Linked DNA regions of Homo sapiens: region 2 is linked to region 1. The links come from fine-mapping of genetic effects on gene expression. A gene starts in region 1. The other region holds a variant in brackets. All regions are shown on one strand. Distances are between the middles of the regions. Region 1 holds the start of ARHGAP18 (Rho GTPase activating protein 18). Region 2 overlaps ARHGAP18 (Rho GTPase activating protein 18).

The links. PIP is the estimated chance that this variant, and not a neighbour inherited with it, causes the effect.
Region 2: its variant is fine-mapped to the expression of ARHGAP18 in whole blood (INTERVAL, PIP 0.91).

Annotation. Positions count from the first base shown.
Region 1 is chr6:129,705,609-129,716,189 of GRCh38, forward strand. ARHGAP18 (Rho GTPase activating protein 18) reads right to left here and starts at 4,569. Exons shown (of 15, transcript NM_033515.3): 1 at 4,416-4,569. The coding sequence starts at 4,528. RefSeq lists a silencer at 4,843-4,922.
Region 2 is chr6:129,589,420-129,600,000 of GRCh38, forward strand. ARHGAP18 (Rho GTPase activating protein 18) reads right to left here. Exons shown (of 15, transcript NM_033515.3): 12 at 9,797-9,937. Among named protein-coding and RNA genes, the nearest start is that of ARHGAP18, 120 kb to the right of the region's middle. RefSeq lists an enhancer at 9,445-9,739. The variant T/C (reference allele first, on the strand shown) is at 4,843.

The DNA of each region.
Region 1 (10,581 bases):
TGTTTCTTAACACATGACAAAATAATATTCAGAAAAACGCTTCTGAAACAAGGGAGAATATTCTATATCCTGCAAAACTCAATCCTTTCTTTCCTTTTCTTTACCTAGTATTAAGGAAAGTAGCAGCTAGCTACAAACCAGACACTCTTCTATGGGCTTGACAGAGGTCATCCCACTCAGTTGTCTTAATCAGGTGAGTAATATTATGAAGTTCAATTTATGGGTAGAGAGATAACTCCTCCAAGGTCACACTGCTAATGAATGAGAGAGCTGGGATATGACCCCAGACAGGTTGGCCCCAGAACCCAGGGTTTCTGGGTTTATGTCACCCCTGTGTAGTGCCTCTTGTTTCTGCCTACCCAATACCAATGGCAAGTTGGGTCAACAAGACCTTACATGATGAATGCCATACATTTATTCAGAGAAGGCATAAAAATATCTCACTCATCAGTCCATTCAGTTAGCTAAGGAATTAAAAGGCCCAATAAAAAAGGTTACTTGACATTCATATTAAAATATTAGCAAAAAATATGCAAAGCAAACAACCATTTCTCTTAAAATGGGAAGGTAAGAGAGAACAGTAAGAATAGACAAAACACAATATTCTTCGAAAAAATTCTTTTCAAAACTAAATATTAAGAAGCCTGCTTGAAAAACAAGTAAACAAAGTCTTATAAATATAGCTACTCATAAAAAGTGGTTTCCTTTGGAAACATTCAACTGTGTACAAGTCGGCCATGACAACTAATGTTAACATATTTCTTCAAATCCTCATGTTTTGAGGAGGAAACATACAAAAGAAAAACAGGATTCTATAAAGGGAGAGGCTCTAACCAGGAGTGGGAGGAATTCCTTAATCTGACATTCAATGACTGTTTTCTGATAAAGAGGGATAATGGAATGGAGAAAATTTAGCTAACAAATTACTTCCAAAAATATTAATTCCCTACTATCTCAGCTTTTCAAAAGACCAAATGGTAATAAAAAAGGACATGGAGCCGGGTGCAGTGGCTCATGCCTGTAATCTCGGCACTTTGGGAGGATGAGGTGGGCAGATCATCTGAGGTCAGGAGTTCGAGACCAGCCTGGTCAACATGGTGAAACCCCGTCTCTACTAAAAATACAAAAATTAGCCAGGGGTGGTGGCACTCGCCTGTAATCCCAGCTGCTTGGGAGGCTGAAGCAGGAGAATCACTTGAGCCTGGAGACGGAGGTTGCAGTGAGCCCAGATCGTGCCACGGCATTCCAGCCTGGGTGACAGAGTAAGACTCTGTCTCAAAAAAAAAAAAAAAAAAAAAAGACTTGGTATGGCTAGGCTAAAAATCAAACACTTTCAGGCTGGGCGCAGTGGCTCATGCCTGTAATCCCAGCACTTTGGGGGGCCAAGGTGGGCAGATCACCTGAAGTCGGGAGTTCGAGACCAGCCTGACCAACATGGAGAAACCCCGACTCCACTAAAAAAAAAAAATACAAAATTAGCCAGGCGTGGTGGTGCATGCCTGTGGTCCCAGCTACTATAGAGGCTGAGGCAGGAGAATAGCTTGAACCTGGGAGGCAGAGGTTGTGGTGAGCCAAGAGTGCGCCATTGTGCTCCAGCCTGAGCAACAAGAACAAAACTCCATCTCGAAAAAAAAAAGGAAACAATTTTCAATAAATACGCTAAGTCATACACATATGTATAAATGGCATTATAAAGACATGAATTCATCTCATGAACTAAATATTGGATTAAATATTTCAAAGAACATATTACTTACAGACAAAATCTTGTGATAAGAAAAGTTATACTTCCGTGCTATCTTCTATAATTTTTAAATGGGTAGGAGGAAATGCAGAATCTAATTTAGCTTTTATTTTTTATTTATTTATTTATTTTTTGAGACAGGGTCTCACTCCCTCACCCAGGCTGGAGTGCAGTGGCGTGATCTCAGCTCACTGCAATCTCTGCTCCACCAGCCTCAAGTGATCCTCACACTTCAGCCTCCTGAGTAGCTGGGACCACGGGCATGCACTACCATTTCTAGTTTGTTTGTGGTTTCTTGTTTTTTTTTTTTTTTTTGTATTTTTGGTAGAGCTGTGGGGGCGGGGGTCTTTTTTTTGCCCAGGCTGGTCTCTAACTCCTGAGCTCAAGCAATCCACCCACCTCAGCTTCCCAAAGTGCTGAGATGACAGGTGTGAGCCATCACACCCAGCCTAATGTAGCCTTTTTAAGAGTTTTGTTTTGTTTTTACTTTTTGGAGAACTTCTTTAAATAGGCATCAACCATCAACCTTGCACCTTGGAGCAGCTTCCCAGGGCTTAAAACAACACCTGACCAACCCAGCCAAAGCCAAAGCCAAAGTCCAGTTCACCGCCCCGAAACCACTATCACCATTCTTAGGTGGTCACCGAGGACCCCATCCCACCTTCAAATCCTCCTTCCTTCTATCCATCCCCTCCCCCATAGCAATTACAGTATCTCAATCCTTTCAGGCTAAACAGGGTATCTCCCAAAACAACAACAAGTTTATCTGATTCGTTAGCCCTTAAGGGTAAAAGCCATTGAAAACTAGCCCTACTCCCTCCTTCCTCCCTGCCCTCAAACCAGGCTCCCATCTTCTCCGGTCAATATCAGGAACGATCCCTAGAACTAATTCAGTGGTGGGAAGTTGGGTCTGGTATGGGCAGGCTACGTGACAGCCAGCAAAGGAGCTCACCTGGAGCTGTGGCCCCACACAGGGCACTTGCCGTGTGGGCAGCTGCCCACCCTGCCACCTTAGTGCCTCTTGGTTCTGCTTCAGCCTAGGCAGAGAATGATCTGATCCTCTCTTATTCTCTCAACCCACTCAAGTATGGGCCACCCACACTGCAAACACAGAATAATGAGTCTCCAGAACTGGAGATGCAGCCCCAGACAAAGGCCTAGAACTCCAGACCTTCCAAAAACTTAACTAATCCCTGGGGTTTGAGTCCTACGTGAAAATGAGAGGTTAGGACTCAGTCCTTAAGGTCCTTTCCATTCTCACAATCAAGATCCAAGATTCAGCTCAGGTCCTCAGGCCATTCAGCCTAAAGTCGGAGAATGTCCTGAGCTTGTATAATTTTGGCAATTTTGACTGACATGTGGAATCCAAGTTATGGCTGGGTATGGGGTTGGTGTTGCAGGCTGCTTTACTGCTTAATGATTACTAATACATTACAGAAAAATGGATGAAAACACTTCAAGATCTCTTGATTTAATGATTTAACATTAAGTCATTTAAAATGATGGAAAATGAAATGGTAACACAGCTAAGGCACAAGCACCAAATCTTTTTTATCTTTGGAAATGAATTCATTCAATGAAATACATACTGTGGATGCTATGTGAGAAACAGTTCCCGTCAGCTGGGAGTCTAACACTGAGTATTACAGCCATTCCTTTGATTTTTCTCCCTCCCTCATATTTGGAGATTTTAAAACAAATGAAAGGCAGCATTATTTCAGCTTAAGGCACAGGCATAAGTCACATAAGAACAAAGAAGGTTTTATTATCACATTAAGCATTGAGGAGGAAATGTGCTTACCGATAACTAATTTAGTGTTCTAGGCTATTAGGTTAGTATTTGCTTCTTGCAATCTTCTAGGCCAATATTTACTATTTATATCTTGATGGAGGTAAAAATGTTCAGCTAGTGAGAAGGTCATTAAGGAGAGAAAGAAAAAAAAAAGCCCTTGGAAAATGGAACAAAGTACACAGATAGGGAGAAAGGTACCCTTTGCGCCTCAGTGGTCTATAGAACATTTGCCCTCTCTGCCTATAAAGTGATTTAACATTAACCACATTTCACTCCAGCAGCAGAGTGCTATCTCCTGACAAAAACTCCTTTTTGAAAGCCTGGGGGAAAAAAAATCCACATACACAAAAGAATGTGAAACATATTGCCACAGGCCAGTGTCTTGGGCTTTTTGCCTAAGAGGTTTGCTTTCAGCAAAGAGAGGGGGGAAAAAAAACACTCTAACAACAACAGCTTGTACAGTACAGTGAACAGCCTCCCTGCTTTTTGGCAGACTTTCCCAGCGAACAGTTCCAGTGGCAGTGCCTTGAGCCCATTCAAGAATTCCATTTCATAGGAAAGGAAGTGTTTCAGATAGACCTATTTGATCTTTCAGCATGTGCAAATGCACCTGCTAAATAGCTAGTCTGACAGCCCATATAGCCCTCTCCCCAGTTCCTTCTTCTCTGTCTTCACCAGTAATCATATGGGTTATTTCAGACTTGGACTAGGTGAGATGAAAAGTACATAAAAATCACGCCAAACGTTGCTACTGCTGCTGCACGAGCTCAGGCTCGACGTGCAGATGGAATTCCCTTCTCCCCACGCCAACTTCCCTGTCACTTTCTTCCTGGAGCAGGTAAGAGGGTTTTGTTTTGTTTTCAGCTTCCGAAGGCTTACCTCGAGGTGGCTTCCTCCCCTGCCTTTGCATGGCTGTTCCCGACGGTCTGGTCCTTGCCGCTGGGGTGGTAGGCTGTTAGTACCACTCCCTGGGAACTGGAGAGCCAGCTCATGGTGAGAGAAGGGACATACTTTCTGCGATCCTGACACAGAGAAGGGGAAAGAAGTTCCTGTCTCGCCTGGCAACTCGCTCATTAGCATTGGCCAGCTCCTCCCCGCAGGCTGGCGATTCACACGGGGAGGGGCGGGGTCTGTCCAGGGAAGGGCTTCCTGCCTCTCCAATTAGAAGCTGCAACTCACAGCATGGTTTCAACTCTGGACAATTGCACTCTGGGCGGCTTTGGTTAAAGGAGGCGAAGGGTGGAAGCGACGGGTTGCACCCACCCCCAAGTTAGTCTGATCAGATTAAACTGCCAGAACGTATATTCAACTCATCACTGTAACTACAAGCCGTCTTACTTAGGAAACCATGAGTTGCTGCCAAGGCTTTTTTTTTTCCCTCCCCAATTCCTCTATCTTATAATTTCTGCTACTTAATGTAACATGAGTAAAGGCATTTCTTAACCCCTTCATGTTCAGCGTTAAAATTAGCCATAGTAAAAAACAACGAACCCGCGGCAAAACTCTGCAATCCAGACGACGAGAAAGGCTTGATCCTTGTGTCCGGTTAAAAATGCCCTCATAAAAATTGTGTGTCCTGGAATGTCGTCGTCTTTCACATAAAGCCAATCTCAAATATACGTCTTGTTTTAGCAAAATATTTTTCAGCACCAAAAAGGGATAGACCTACCAATGCTCTGTTAAGTGTTATTGCTGAGAACAAGAGAAGTCCCTGCCATTTGTTGAGCACCTACTATATGCCAAGCTCTCATGGACGGGGGTTTCACATGTATTATCTCATTCCATTCAATTCTCTCTCTCTCACACACACACACACACCGTACAAGATAGGTATCACTATCATCTGTGTTATACATAACACAAGGAAAGTAAGGCTGAGGGACGAGTTAAGTAACTTCACTAAGATAACACAGTTGCTAGTGCCAGAAGCTGGATTTGAACAGAATTCTAGGCTACATTCCTTTTATTTTTCACCAGTATGCTCTTCTTTGTTTTGCAGATTAAGAAACAAGATCAAAATTATCATAAACACAAAAGACAGCTCTGTTCTTTCTCCCCATCTCCCCTCCAAAAAAAAAAATCACTTTTTTGGTTTGTTTTTGAATCAGGGTCTCACTCTGTCACCCAGGCTGGAGTACAGTGGTGATTGTAACTCACTGCAGCCTCAACCTCCCAGGCTCAAGAAATCCTCCAGCCTCAGCCTCCCCAATAGCTAAGACCACAGGCATGCACTACCACGCCCAGCTAATTTTTTTATGCTTTGTGGAGAGGGAGGGTCTCACTGTGTTGCCCAGGCTGGTCTTGAACTCCTGGGCTCAAGCAATCCTCTTGGCTCAAGCTCCCAAAGTATTGAGATTACAGGCATGAGCCACCACGCCTGGCTTCTACTCTGACATACCCAGTAGTCTGAAGGTTTTTTTAGATTTTTATGATTCATTCAACTCTCTAGAATTCCTCTTGAACAAGTTTCCAATTCCATCATTACATAAACTTATTGCTTATACCTTATCATTATTTAAAACAGTCATGAAAAATAATTTCTTCCTCCTTACATACTCTAGAAGTATCTGAAATTTATTTTTGAACCCTCTTTCTTATAATTTACAAAAGTCTTCCTTAAAAGGAATTTATATCTTCCTCCCTCCCCCCTGCACAACTGCTCAACCTTCCCATTTCCACTTCCATAGGACTTTACTTGCTGTCTCCTTTTTATCCCCATGACCTCAACCACCTCTGGATCCTATAATGCAGTCTTAGCTCCAATATTACAACAGCCCTTTTAGCTCATCTCCCTGTCACCTCCTTTAAATTGCTTTGACATTATGATCACACCCTGGCACTCATGATCCCTCTCCTCGCTTAAAAACCTTCATTGGCTCTCTATTGCTAACAGAGCCAGTTCCAGGCTTTTGAGCAGATCACTGGGCATTCCTGCTACCTTATACATACAAGTCTTTCCATCTGCTAGACACAATCTTTTCAGGTCCTACTATGATTCTTTTCTCTTCATCTGACAGCTAACTTAAATTTTGTACCTACTGAGCCTTCAGTAAACACTGAATGGAGGAAAACCTGAATGAATTGAAAGTATCCTTTAAAACTCTACTAAATTTTTTTTTTTTTTTGAGACAGAGTTTCGCTCTTGTTGCCCAGGCTGGAGTGCAATGGCATGATCTCGGCTCACCACAATCTCCACCTCCCAGGTTCAAGCGATTCTCCTGCCTCAGTCTCCCGAGTAGCTGGGATTACAGGCATGTGTCACGACGCTGGCTAATTTTGTATTTTTAGTAGAGACTGGGTTTCTCCATGTTGGTCAGGCTGGTCTTGAACTCCCGAACTCAGGTGATCCGCCCACCTCGGCCTCCCAAAGTGCTGGGATTACAGGCATGAGCCACCGCGCCCGGCCAACTCTACTAAATCTTTATATTAAAATTGGTAATATTAGATAAGCGGTTCCCATGCACATACCAGTGCTAACCTATGAGGAAATGTTCATCAGTTCAGGCAAAACAAAAACTATAAAGAGAGGGAGGCAAAGATTAAAGTAAATTAGAATATATGTGTTTTGTCTTTTCAGTGTCCTTACATGGAAAAAATGTTAATAACCAGCTCATCCACCCCTCCTTTTTTATGTAGCTACTCTGAAATGCAAACATATGGGAATCACTATCTTATACAATTATTGATGGTAATCACTACATTATCTTTTGGAAATTCTTTTCTGTTTCCCTCCCACCTTTTTCTCCCCCCTTACTTCCCTCTACCTCCCTTTTTATTATCTTCCTTTTTTTTCTAGTTTTCCTTCTTCCTTTGCTATGTCTTTAGCCTGTCAATGTCATCCATGCCCATTGGCAGCCACGGGCACTGCATCTCTCATGTGACAGTTTGCGATGAAGATTTTGTCCAGTTATAGCCAAAACAATTATTTAGTTATATTTTTGCCTAATTATGGTCTTTTCACTTGTTTAATAACAAATCACAATGTACAGGTTGAAATGTAATTGTTTTACAATGTCAAAATAATATTTGGGTTTGCAATATCCACCGTTTTTAATTTCTGTGAGGCAGAAAACCAAATGTGATACAAATTGATTTACATAGCTTAGTACATAAAATTTGAATCCTTCTAATTTAGCTCTCAAATACCTGAAAATCCTCTGAGCTTTTTCTCCTTTCCTCCCACCAAGCCCTGTTGCTACTGGTCGAAGGGTATTACCTATCACAGGCAGAGAGCTGGTAGGACTGTGGCCTGGTGTTCATAGCCTCAGATACATGCTCAAGTAGATTAAAAACAGTTTTCAGAATTTTCCCATGTCATCAAAGAAGCAAACCTAACTACCAGTGTGGTCTCTTAAAAAGCTGTTCTTTGGGAGGCCAAGGTAGGTGGATCACCTGAGGTCAGGAGCTCAGGACCAGCCTGGCCAACATGGTGAAACCCCGTCTCTACTAAAAAATACAAAAATTAGCCGGGTGGCGTGGTGGTGGGCACCTGTAATCCCAGCTACTCAGGAGGCTGAGACAGGAGAATTGCTTGAACCCAGGAGGCGGAGGTTGCAGTGAGCCGAGATCATACCACTGCACTCCAGCCTGGGAGACAGAGCGAGACTCCGTCTCAAAAAAAAAAAAAAAAAAGAAAAAGAAAAAAAGAAAAACAACGACAAAAACAAAAACAAAAAAAAAAACCTGTTCTTATTTCACACTGTAAACTGTACTAAGGTTTAGCTCATGTCCATCCCTTATACCATTATCGCTCTTTTGCAGAGACAAATATTATGAAAAAAAACAAAACACTTTTTTACTCCTTTCCGCAACCATTTTAAACACACACTGAGAACCTCATGACCTTGAAGATGTTAATATTCCCAGCTATTGAGTGCGTGCCAAACACTTTCCTGTTATGAAACATCTTAAAAAGTAATTAACAACATCAAGACAGTTTAAACATTCATTTCATTCATTCTGTTTAAATGAGGTGTACTAGATGACACAGGAAAGGAAAAGGAAGCGGTAATTTATGTACCCAAATAGGTTGTTAAAAATAGGGTGAAGATGGTACTGCAGTCTCTGACAATTTGACACCCATGTTCAAAAACAATGAAAAAATTTTTCTTCAGTTCAGTGCTAGTGGTAGCAAAGAGTTTATTAGCTGGTTTTTATATGTTGATTTAGGAGCCTATTTAGTATTAGAAGGAATTGTATTAGAAGAGTGCCATGCAATGGAATCAGCATATAATTTATCAAATTTTTCCTGAATTGGTCTAGTTCTCTTAAAAAAAAAAAAAGAATTAAAGGAGAATATGTACACACAATCTCTATATGATGATGAAAATCTACATAGGGACAAAAGCCATGTGAAAATGACCTTCCAAATGGTAAAATTAAACCCAATTTTCAATATTATAACAAGAACTTGAATAAATTAATCAACTGTGAAGTTAAAGTTTTACATAGGTGATAAAGGCTAGACATATGAAGCAGGATTGACTAATGAAGAGGAAGAGTTCTTAACATCCCTTACCTCATGTTTTATCAGGACCTCGTAGGAATAGTTCTTGTCAGCTTACAAAGTTAGCTACCTCTGTGCTAGGGTACTATGACTGAAAATTATTCCATATACAGAATCTCAAACTATTTCCTTGGGAATTACACTCATTGTTATTAATTCTGTCTCTGGAACAACAAGAAATAACCCTTTTCCCTTTCTCTGGACAGCTCTAAAAATGTCTACGTTATTCTCAAAGTTATTTTCTTAACTGCTCCTCCTGCGAGAAAATACTAGCCATGCTTGGGATAATTTGTAACTGCTATTGCCAGAGGCTAATTTAGGCTTTTCGGCAATCATTTAGAAAAGATGTTTCTTACAAATAGTTTATTACCAATAAATAACAATAGCTAATATTGAGTCCTTACTCTTCGCTAGACATGGTATACATGGTCTATCATTTAATCATCACAATCACCACCAGGGATAGAAATTGGAATTACGCTCACTTTAGAGATGAGGAATATGAGGTCATCCAGTTAGTAGGTGGCAGAACCAGGACATGTAAACCTGGGTTTATGTGACCTTGGAGCCTGAGCTCTTAAGCATTATAAAGGTTACAGCAGTCCTAGAATTGACATCATTTTATTTCTGAAAAGAATCATATGAATAACAAAGTTAAATAATCTACAGCAAACCTAAGGTCCTTAATCAAATGGAATATTGATATAAATACAATGCTATGGAGATTTACACTCAATTCTTTTCTGGTACTTTGAAACTTGTTTTTTTATGTCAAATTATTGGGGTAGTGTGGCATAATATATACACTAGTCTAAAAGGTCATCATCATTGTGCCATCATATCTAAAATTGTTTCCACTGATAGAAGTGAAAAAAAGTACTCTGATCACTATGATTATGAATTTTTTTTTCTTAAAAAAGCAGATTCGATGTGCGGAACCCAAAGCTTATAGAATTTGTTAGCTATGGAGCCTTGGATGAGGCCTTATGCAAGAGCCAGACTCTGAAGATTCAATCTCATTTAACTTCATGAGAAATCTGCCCTTCATATCAAAACTAGCCTAAGCTGGAAATTATCCAAGAAAAAGTGCCATGACCCTAAATTTTCTTTTGGTTTTCTCTTCATTGACAACTAGAATGGAGATACATGTTGCAAACACTTGCAACTGGAATGATGAAGTATATTCTGGAGGCTAATACGTACTGGAAAAGTAGAATTTTGTTTATGAATATAAGGTTCAATTTTAAAAGTCTACAATTGTATCAATATTAGATTTGTCAAATACAAAAATCCTTGTCCTGCAGTGGATTACAAATGATGCTTATCCCCTTGTTATGTAAAAGCAGCCACTGTGAGTGGGGAAGAATGGTGAAGCTGCAGATCTAAGGAAAGGGATGAGTTGATTCATGGCTTGGAGAAAAAGAAAAATGGAAGGAAGCCATGTTTCTTTTTTTTTTTTTTTTTTTTTTTTTGAGACGGAGTCTCTCGCTCTGTCGCCCAGGCTGGAGTGCAGTGGTGCAGTCTCAGCTCACTGCAACC
Region 2 (10,581 bases), 120 kb before region 1:
AAGTTCCTCATCTCCATCTGTGACCACCTCAGCATGGACTTTTTTGTCCACAACACTATCAGCATTTTGGTCAAAGCCATTCAATGAGTCTCTAGGAAGTTCCAAACTTTCCCACGTCTTCCTGTCTTCTGAGTCCTCCAAGTCTCTAGTTCCAAACTCTTTCACATTTTCTTATCTTCTTCTGAGCCCTCCAAACGGTTCCAACCTCTGCCTGTTACCCAGTTCCAAAATCACTTCCACATTTTCAGGTATCTTTATAGCAGCACCCCACTCTATCGGTACCAATATCTGTATTAGTCGTGGTTCTTGAAAAGGACAGAACTCATAGCATAGATGAGTTTATTAAGGAGTATTGACTCACACGATCACAAGGTGAAGTCCCACAATAGGCCATCTGCAAGCTGAGGAGCAAGGAAGCCAGTTCGAGTCCCAAAACCTCAAAAGTGGGGAAGCTGACAGTGCAGCCTTCAGTCTGTGGCTGAAGGTCAGACAGCCCCTGGTAAACCATTGGTGTAAGTCCAAGGGTCCAAACATTGAAGAACTTGGAGTCCAATGTTCCAGAGCAGGAAGCATCCAGCCAGGAAAAAGATGAAGGCCAGAGGACTCAGCAAGTCTGTTCTTTCCACTTTCTTCTGCCTGCTTTTATTCTAGCCATGCTGGCAGCTGATTAGATGGTGCCCACCAAGCCTCTCCCAGTCCATTGACCCAAATATTAATCTTCTTTGGCAACACCCTCACAGACACACCCAGGAACAATATTTTGCATCCTTTAATCCAATCAAGTTGACCCTCAATATTGAGTGACAACTTAATGCTTTCTAAATGAGCTCAGGTACCATAGCTTTGGGGAGTATGACCATGCCATGCTTCCTTATGAAATGAGGTGTTGAGTTCAGGGTGGTAAAAGGACTTGCACAGAAAGCACCACATCTGACCCAGGAATCTAGGATCTTTCTGATAGTTAAGAGTTTTAATAGAGAGTCCCAAGATACTAGCTTCTGGGGGCAATTGGGAGTTTTCACGTATATGTGTAATGTTAGGTAATTGACATATTATGGGGTACACAGGCTGGTTTTTGCCAAGATGGGAAGCAGCATGAGTACTCTCCTACAGATTCCTTCTGGCTATGAAATAAAAACATTTCCCACATCCCTTTCCCTCAATGAGCAGAGGATGAGGTTAAGCCACCTTTGAGCTCAGCAAGAACCCTTCCCAAGCTACAAACGGTAGTCATTTTGACTCATTTCACAAAGAGCTGGAATATCAATATCCTTGGAAAGCATTTCATTAAACCAACAATGGTACATGGTTTTCATTAAACCTTCCTAGGCTGACATTCTCTGACCACTAGAGAACCTGTATTCTACGGCAGGGAGAGAGAGTGTGTGTGTGGTTTGTGTGTCTATGGGATATGAACATTTCTCAGCTTGTTTATTTCTGTAGTGATTCATCCCATCCAAATTCTTACAACAATACAGAGATTGAGAGTTTGACTCAATATGGATATACAATGCTCTTTATCCCTGAAGAAGAAACGAGTTTAACCAGTATATATAATGGTAAAGCTAAAGAGTTAAAGTTGTTTCTGGGAAGTTTTTGCTGGATATCTTGACAAGGAAGGCCAAATGATATTTACAAAGATGATAAACAATAAATTATGCCAAAGCCATCATTTAAATGGTGTATGAAAACCACTATTAAGTACTAGAATCATGCTGTATCGAATACTGAAGTTATTACTATACTAATTACATTGAGTTGCCAAGCTTTGAAAAGATACAACATGCCTGATCGTTAAGCCAGTCTGTTCTTAACTTGAGCCATAATAATAACTGAATCTGTACACAGTATGATCTTTATAACCCTTCTCTTTCACATGTTTTAATCTAAAATTGTCACTCTGTCTCCTGCTTTTTTTTCCCATTGAGATAGGGGAGGAGCGTGCTTGTGAACTGCAGTTATGTGAGGTACAGCAGGACTGGAGAAGGGCAGTATTTGACTAACACTCCATCAAAGAAAAGTCACAAAGGATTTTACAACTTCAAGAGTGTTAATTTCTTATGCATGCTAAGATTATTAAAATAGAGAAAATGACCTCATATGGTCTTCACATGTTTTACATATTGAACTGAAGTTTATATTTCTAAACCTGATTTTATTATTATCTGGTTAAATAACAATTTTAGCATTTTTTCATAAGGTATCTAAAAACACTGCATTGCTCATATTTTTGCACTCTAGAGATTAGAAATTTAATGTCAGACCGGTAAAAGAGGTCTCTTTCTTTTTCATTAAAAGCTAATTTAAATGTAAAGCTGACATTTTTTATGCTACAGAAAACCCTTTTTATCTTCAAAAGGGCAAATTGGAAATACAGCTTTTTCAAAAAGAAGGCCAGATATAACACATATTTTAGAAAATTAAACAGGGACATTTTAGCAAGGTATCTTAAACTAAAATGGTATATTCATCACCCTAGTCTGAACTGACAATACTGGGAAGTGGTGATATAAAAGGAATTCGCTACTATCTTGAACTATGTGCTAATTATAATTGGATCTTTGTTATCCAAATGCCTTAAACTTTTATCCAACTCACAGATTCAGAGGATTTTAAAGAAAGGCTTAAAATAACTTCCATAGTTAATAAGAATTTAATTTCCAATGACATAAGTTCTAATATTTTTTTTTAATGTGGTATTTTTATGCAGTATTAAAAATCAGGGAATGTCATAAAAAGAAATAAGATTTTGTGCTTGATATTGTAATCTGATTTTCCACTTGGGTCCCCAAGTAAATCCAGCCACTATTTCCAGACCTAAAGCAGATGCTTGAAACAATACCTGCAACAATGCTTTGCAGCAAGAACTGTTAAATGAAATCAGAGATGCAATTCTAAACAGAGTTGTGCATAAAGGCACGCAACCCTGGCCACAAACAACTCAGCATCTACACCGCACTGCTGCCAATGCCAGGATTCTTCCAGTGGTAGCAACAGATTTCTTTTTCACATCCATAGCCCTACACTTTAAAATGTGACAACATTATTCTGGAACTTTCAGCAAGTCACGTAAGCTCTCTAAAGCTTGAGTTCCTCCCTGGTAAATTAAGGGTGTGATACTAGCATGTCCCAAGTTAACACTAACATTAACCCTATGAGAGAAAGCCTTTTGTTTCCTTGACCTATGAGGTCAGAAGTGGTGAGCAGCATGGCATTTTGGACAGAATCTCATACAGCCACTCTGTACCCTCACTCTCATAAATGAACAGCCTCCCTTTGAGAGGTGAGCTTGAATGGCAGAAGAAACATCATACAAACCTAAGTCACAATAACCCTGAGGCCTGGATGAGTCAACAAATCACAACCAATTGTTCATCAAAGCTGCCCCCTACATTCTTAGTAGGCAGAGATGCAATCTGAGGTAATTATAAGATATCCTTTAAAATTCTAAAAGGAAAAAACATGTGGGAGACAGGATGCAACAAGATCAGAAAAATGTGTTCGATTGTTGATGATAAAGGTTTTGGGGGGCTCATGTACTATTCTTTCTACTCGTATGTGTTTAAAAAGTTTCATGATAAAATTAAATATACATATGCATACACACACACAAACACACCAATAGGAAGAGGGAATTACCCTTCCAGCTTTTAGACGATACACACGCCCAAGTCCTGCCCTGGGAGAGTCTGACTCAGTGGGTCTAGCGAGTCACCCAATCACGGTTTGCTTTTTGTTTTGTTCTAAAATAATATTACCAGGCCAGGTGCAGTGGCTTACACCTGTAATCTCAGGTGTGAAAGGCTGAGGAGGGAGGATCGCTTCATGCCAGGAGTTCGAGACCAGCCTGTGTAACGTAGCAAGACCCTGTCTCTACAAAATAGTTTAAAAATTAACCAGGCATGGTGATGCATGCCTGTAGTCCCAGCTACTCATGAGGCTGAGGTGGGAGGATCCCTTGAGCCTGCAACTTTGAGGTTACAATGAGCCATGATTGCACCATTGCACTTCAGCCTGGGTGAAAAAGCAAGACCTTATCTCCAAAAATAAACAAACCTTTAAAAAATTAAATATTACAGATGCCACTATTGTGAACTTCTGGTTAAACACCATTAACCTGATCCTACCCTATCATTTTATAAAAGAAACTGAAGCCCACAGAGGTAAAATGACTTGTCACACTCACTCGTGGCAGAGCTGGGGCTATATCCTCAGGCCACATGACTTCTGAGGTGTATGTGTGGGTGTAGATGTGTGTGTTATCAATCCCGACAAGTTAAAGCCTATCAGAAAATGATTATTATTAATGGTCTACAATTTTCTTATTTTTCCTCCAACTGTTTCTTCCTACTATAATTAATGGATAAGACATACTAGTATTTAAGAACATCTACATTTGGACCAAACACTCAGTATGCTGTAGTCACTAAAAACATTTGCCTCATGAGGTAAATTGAGTACATCTTAAAACCTGGCTCAAATTATTAATTAACTAGTGTAGTCTAGCACGTCTTAATAATACAAATGCCCAATTATAAACGGTTAGTTTTAATAGCATACAAAATTATTATTTTTTTAACAGGGGTGTCACTGTTTTACCCAGGCTGGCATCTAACTCTTAGGCTCAAGTGATCCTCCTGTTCAGCCTCCCAAGTAGCTGGGACTACAGGTGCATGCCACTGCATTGAGTCAAAGCCTCTTAAAAATATTACCTTGAAGAATGTTTATGATCTATAGTCTCTTTCACTCTCCAATCCCTGGCAATCTAGCTTTTTCCATAAATTACCATTGACAATGCTTTGGGGAAAGTAATAATTAACCTTCAAATTCAAAAACCTTTGT[T/C]CAGTGTTAACCTTACTCAGTCTCTCTGCAGCATTTGGCACTACTAACCAAGCTCTTTTTACTTACTTTACTCTTCCTGCCTGGGCTTCAGAGAAAATATACATCCTTCAACTTTCTCTTACTTCCTATTATTTCCTAGCCTCCTTCACCAGCTCTTCTTGAATGGCCCATACTTAAACATTGGAATCCCCTAGAGATCTCTCTTTGTCTCTTTATTTTCTTACTCCATATATCCACCTTGTGTAATATGAACCACTCTATGACTTCAACAACAATCTCTAGGCTAATCCCAAAGGTGTGCCTCCAATGCTGGATGCTCCTTGAAATTCAGGCCCCTGTAGCCGACTCACACAGGCACGTTAACCCAAAGTGTCAAAAACTCACTTTTAAGTCTGTCCCCCTTTTGCTTGATGCTAAAGTCACCCAAGGCCAAATTTGGCAAGTCATTCTAGATTCCCTTCTTCTTCCACATTCTTCACATCCAACCAGTATCCACATGTTGCAGGGTTCCTATTGGCTCACATTCTAAACTTCTTTCGATTCTCAACTGGGCCTTGGCTCTAGCCCAGGACCATTTTAAGAACTACATATAAAACATATTTTATAACAGCAGTAATCCATGTTCATTGTATTACCACCCATAAGCCCAGAGTTTTGGTATATATCCTTCTTAGAGTCCTTCTGTGATCTATGGAGAAACAGAGAATAATGGTGAAGAGTCCATGGATTTAAAGTCATATAGATTTGGTTTCAAATTCCAGCTCCACTAATTCCTATCTAGATAACCTTAGTAACTTTAAGATTGCTAATTCTCACTTTCCTCATCTGAAAAAAATTAGACAATAATACACCCCAATTAGACTACCATAAATATTACGAGACAATATTTGTAAAATGTTTAGCATTGTGTCTGACCTCTGCAAAGCATTAAAATCATAGCTATTACCCCCTAAAAATATAGCACTACACCATTCACTGACTCGTAACTTCTTTTATCACATAGTAACATATTACGAATCTCTTCAATGTCAAGATACACATTTGTACACTTTCATGGTATTTCGCTGTATAGATATGCCATAATGTATTTAACTAGCCACCTCTGTTCTTTTGGATTATCTCTAATTTTGGTCAGTGTAAGAAAATGGCAATGAACTTAACCATAAATATTTGCATGTTCATGCTATTACTCTCTTTGGAGGAATATCTGAGTCCAGTGAAGAGCATGGCTTTCAGGACTTTGCCACATGCTGCTGTTCTCTGGAAGAACTCTACCAATTTATATACTCCCATCAACAAGGAAATTACCTACCATCTCCTACCTACCCTCCAATCTTACACTCCCTCAAATCTTTCCTTCACCTTTCAGCAGTTCCCTGTCATGCACAGAATAGAAACTTTGCTATCAATCTCTCTTAAGGCTCACTCCTGCTTTCCCTCTGCCCCTGTCTCTCTATGCACCTAAGTGGCCAGTTAGTATGACCTGATTTTCTCTCCAAACATTTCAAATATCCCCACTTAAATGTCCAATAGACATCATACTCAATATGTCCTAAATTGAAATCATGAAATTGAAAGCAATACCATCCTTCCAATTTCTCAGGCCAAAAATCAGAGTCATTTTTGACCTCTTTTGTTCTCCTACATGATTTCCATCAGGAAATCTCAATGGCTCTAACTTCAAAACAAAATCCAGAATCCAACCATTTCTCCACTTTCCGATGCTGATACCCTGGTCTGAACCACCATTATCTCTTACCTGGATTACAAGAACCTCCCAAATGATCTCCCTATTTTTCTTTGCTCCCTTTTAGTCTATTCTCAACACAACAGCCTAAGGAATCATTTTAAAACATAGTATAGATTTTCAAGCCTTTGCTTCAAACCCCCATTTCACTCAGAGTAAATCCAAATTTCTAATGATGGTCTATCTACAAGGCCCTATGCAATCTTGCCCCATTGCCCCTCTGACCTCATTTCACACTACCGTTCCCTCTGCTGGCTTCACTCCAGCTACACTCACTCCTTAAGGTAAGTTCCTGTCTTAAGGTTTTTTCACAGACTATTCTTTCTGCCTGGACTGAGTTTCCTGAGATATACACACAACTCAACTCCCTGCCCTTCTTCTTGTCTTTGCTTAAATGAATAATATCCAGACCATCTCAACTTAATAGTGCCAGGGGATCTCCTTCCCAATTCCCCTTGTTCTGTTGTTTTTATTACTTTTGGAGGATAAATCACATACTAACACATTATATGAATTACTTCCTAGATTTACTTTTATTTTTAGAATTTAAGCTCTGGAAGAGCAGTGATCTTTGTATGTTTTGTCCAATAATTTATATTTCAAGTACCCAGTAATTCCTGGCACACAGTAGGCACATATCAAGTAACTGTTTAACAAATGACAAAAGCTACCCCCAGGCAATTTCATGCCCTATAGTTTCATATTGCATATTTAAATGATTTGGAGGAGAGTCAAGAAACTACAGCAACCAGACAGAATGAAGGAGGGGGCATGGCTTACAGCAAAGTAGATGGTCCATGTTCCATGCAAAAGGAACGGCTCCTACTCAAATCCAGGGAATTGCTACCCTGATGGAAAGCAGGCCTCTTACTGCCAGAAGATGAGGGATGCCCCAACATCCATTTGTCATTAAGACGGTGGTTCAAACTTTCACATTAAATGTTTTAGCTTTAGAATTCTGGCAGTTGCCAGTTGGAAGCAACATGCAAAAAACTCTTGTTACTTAGTAACTTACCACATATCCACAGTATTTGAACTTAGCTTGCACCTCTACTTGTTCTGTAATTGCTTTGTGTGTCTATTTACTCTCCCTAATAAAATGGCATAATTTTTTTTTTAAATTTTGGCTATTGATTAGAATTTTTTTTTTTTTTTGAGATGAAGTCTCACTCTGTCACCCAAACTGGAGTGCAGTGGCGCAATCTTGGCTCACTGCCTCCCAGGTTCAAGCGATTCTCCTGCCTTAGCTTCTCAAGTAGCTGGACTACAGGTGTGTGCTACCACGTCCAGCCAATTTTTATATTTTTAGCAGAGATGAGGTTCCACTGTCTTGGCCAGGCTGGAGATGAGAATTTTTCTACCAAAATGACAGGCCAAACAGACCTCCACCATGGGCTGTGATGTCAGAAAGCTTCCACTGCAGGTTAGATGGCTCTTCTCTAGTGACACCTGAACAACACTGATTTATTTTTCACATCTCAGCTTGACTCCCCAGTGAAGCCTCTCTCATGCTTACTTCCTGTTTTGTAGATTACGGTACCCTGGTCAGGCTTCAATCACATACCTCTGAGCTACATCCCTTCTATATGCCTTCTCCTGGCTCCTCGAGGGTGAGCACCCAGCTCCCTGACTCCCTGGGAACACCTAACATAAAGTGGGGGCCTAGCACCAAGGTGGCAATAGCATTTTGTTGATGAGTAACTGAATTTCACATAAGGAAAGAAAAAAAAAAACTCAAAGAGGTAAAGTTACAGCTAATATGTGATGAAACTGATATTTAAATCCCAAGCTTTAAAATGACAATACAGTTTTTAAATAGTACAGAGATCATTCTCAGACCAGATCATGTCTAACTATGCCAAAGTGCAAACTAAAGAAGTTAATGCTTTTTTTTCCATAAATGACAAAATTACTAAAATATTCCATTTCCAAAAAGTAAACGTTTCAGTTTTTCTAAATATTATTTAAAAGGTACACCCCAAATGTTTCCTTAAGTAGATCCTGAGCTTCAGAATATCACAGCTAAATGCCCTATAAAAAGACAAGACTATAAAGTCACTTAATATGAATAAGAAGGGCTACAAAACAGACTTAATTCACATATTTACAATGGTCTTAGAGGTAACAGAACATTCTAAAGTTAACCAAATGCCAAAAAAAAAGGCTTTCTAAAAGCCTTTAGGATAATATCAAGGCCTTTCTAAAAAAATAAGCATATTTACAACTTCTCTTTATGTTTTTAAAGATATTTAAAACTTGATTTAAAATGTTTTACAATGCCAAGAAAGTATCATTTTTTAAGAGTGAGAGCTATAAATAAATCTAAGAGAAAAACTTCGTTTTTATGATTACTGGATCCATAAGCAGGCCAAAACCGAAAATTCAGACAAAGGCAGATAACTGCATTTTCACATTATTCCACAAGATGTCAGCATGTAACTGAACAACTTCAATGGTGGTGGTAGTAGGGAGGAGGTGGATTCACTTAAATAGAACAATAGAAACCCTTTCATTTCATGAACTTACGCTACAGCTTTGGTAACTTACTTCATAAATGTATATCCATGTATATTTTATTATTGTAAACCCAGTTCTTAATATACTCTTACAGTAGTTTATAAATACAGATATTTAGGTATTTCTTTTTTGAAACATCTTAATTTTTTTCTTTCCAATTTAGCTCTCAAAATTCTTCTGATCAAATTGAGAACCTTCAAATACTTATTAAAGTCCAGGAATAATCCTAGGCACAACACAAACATTAACCTATTTGTCCATCTGGATTAGTTATTTTTCCCCATTCTACAGATGAGAAAAATTTAGAAAAAAATGTCAGTGGTTCACATGATGTTATTTACTCACTATAGATTATATATTCAGTAGGCGACTAGAGTCTCCGCACGAGAGGTAGAGGTAGGGGTAGGGGTGTAGGGGTGTGTGTGTGTGTGTGTGTTCAGTCTTGTCTTGATATCTTCCTTTGTTCCCCATTAACAACTCACATGCTGAGTCACCAACACCTGACCAACTGTCAATACTGATCATTAGCAGCAGTAGTAGGAAGACAGTTACTGATGTCTTTCACTTACAAGTAGCACCACAGCCTAATAAGTGGCAGAAAGTCATACTATGAAAACATTAAATAAAAAATTTTGGTATTAAAAAAATACTTAAGATCTGAATAAATACATATCTCCACTATTTTCTTACATCATTTGTACTCTTATCTTGCTTTTCATATTTTTCTCGGTCATAAGCCATTTTCTTCAGCAATTTCTTCATGGCTCTTTTATCCTTTTTATGATTTTCCGTGTTTTGCTTCCTCACTTGGTTTACAATAAACTTGGGAATCTATAGAGAAAAGGAATTAAGCTTAGAGAGGAAAAAGAAATGCCACCATTTTAAACTACAAAAAAAAATTATATTTTTTTAAATTTCAAAAACAGTAAAGAGTTTCTCTTTTTGATAAGACTGCCATTTTACATGCACTATTCATTAAATCTGTGAAAAGAAAATACTTCATATTATTCACTTACCAGGTGTACAGGGCATCCACGTGGTATAATTTGCCACCCACTGTGGAAGGTTCCAAAAGAGGCTTTGTGAAGTTCAAGGACATAGTGGCCGTTTTCTATGCCAGACTGGAGACCCCCTGAGGTGACGAGCAGTAGAAGCCACCTCCGTAGGTCTTTCCTTTTGCAGCCTCCTACCTACAGCCCTGCTAGCTAACCTCAAGTCCCCTTCTAATAACCAGCTAGCCGCTGCTGTCATGAGAGAAAGAACTCCCCAAGAAACAAGAGCTGATAGGTAGCTAGCAAAAATCCAGAACAAATTTATCCTAAGAAATCACATTAGCAAAAACAAAATATTTTAAGGTATCAAAATGTAACCATGAAATAATTTTGACATTTCAAACATTGAGATTTAATAAATGGACATTAATTTTTTATTAAAAAAACACATTTGAAATCATCTACATCAGTTGTCTTTTTATG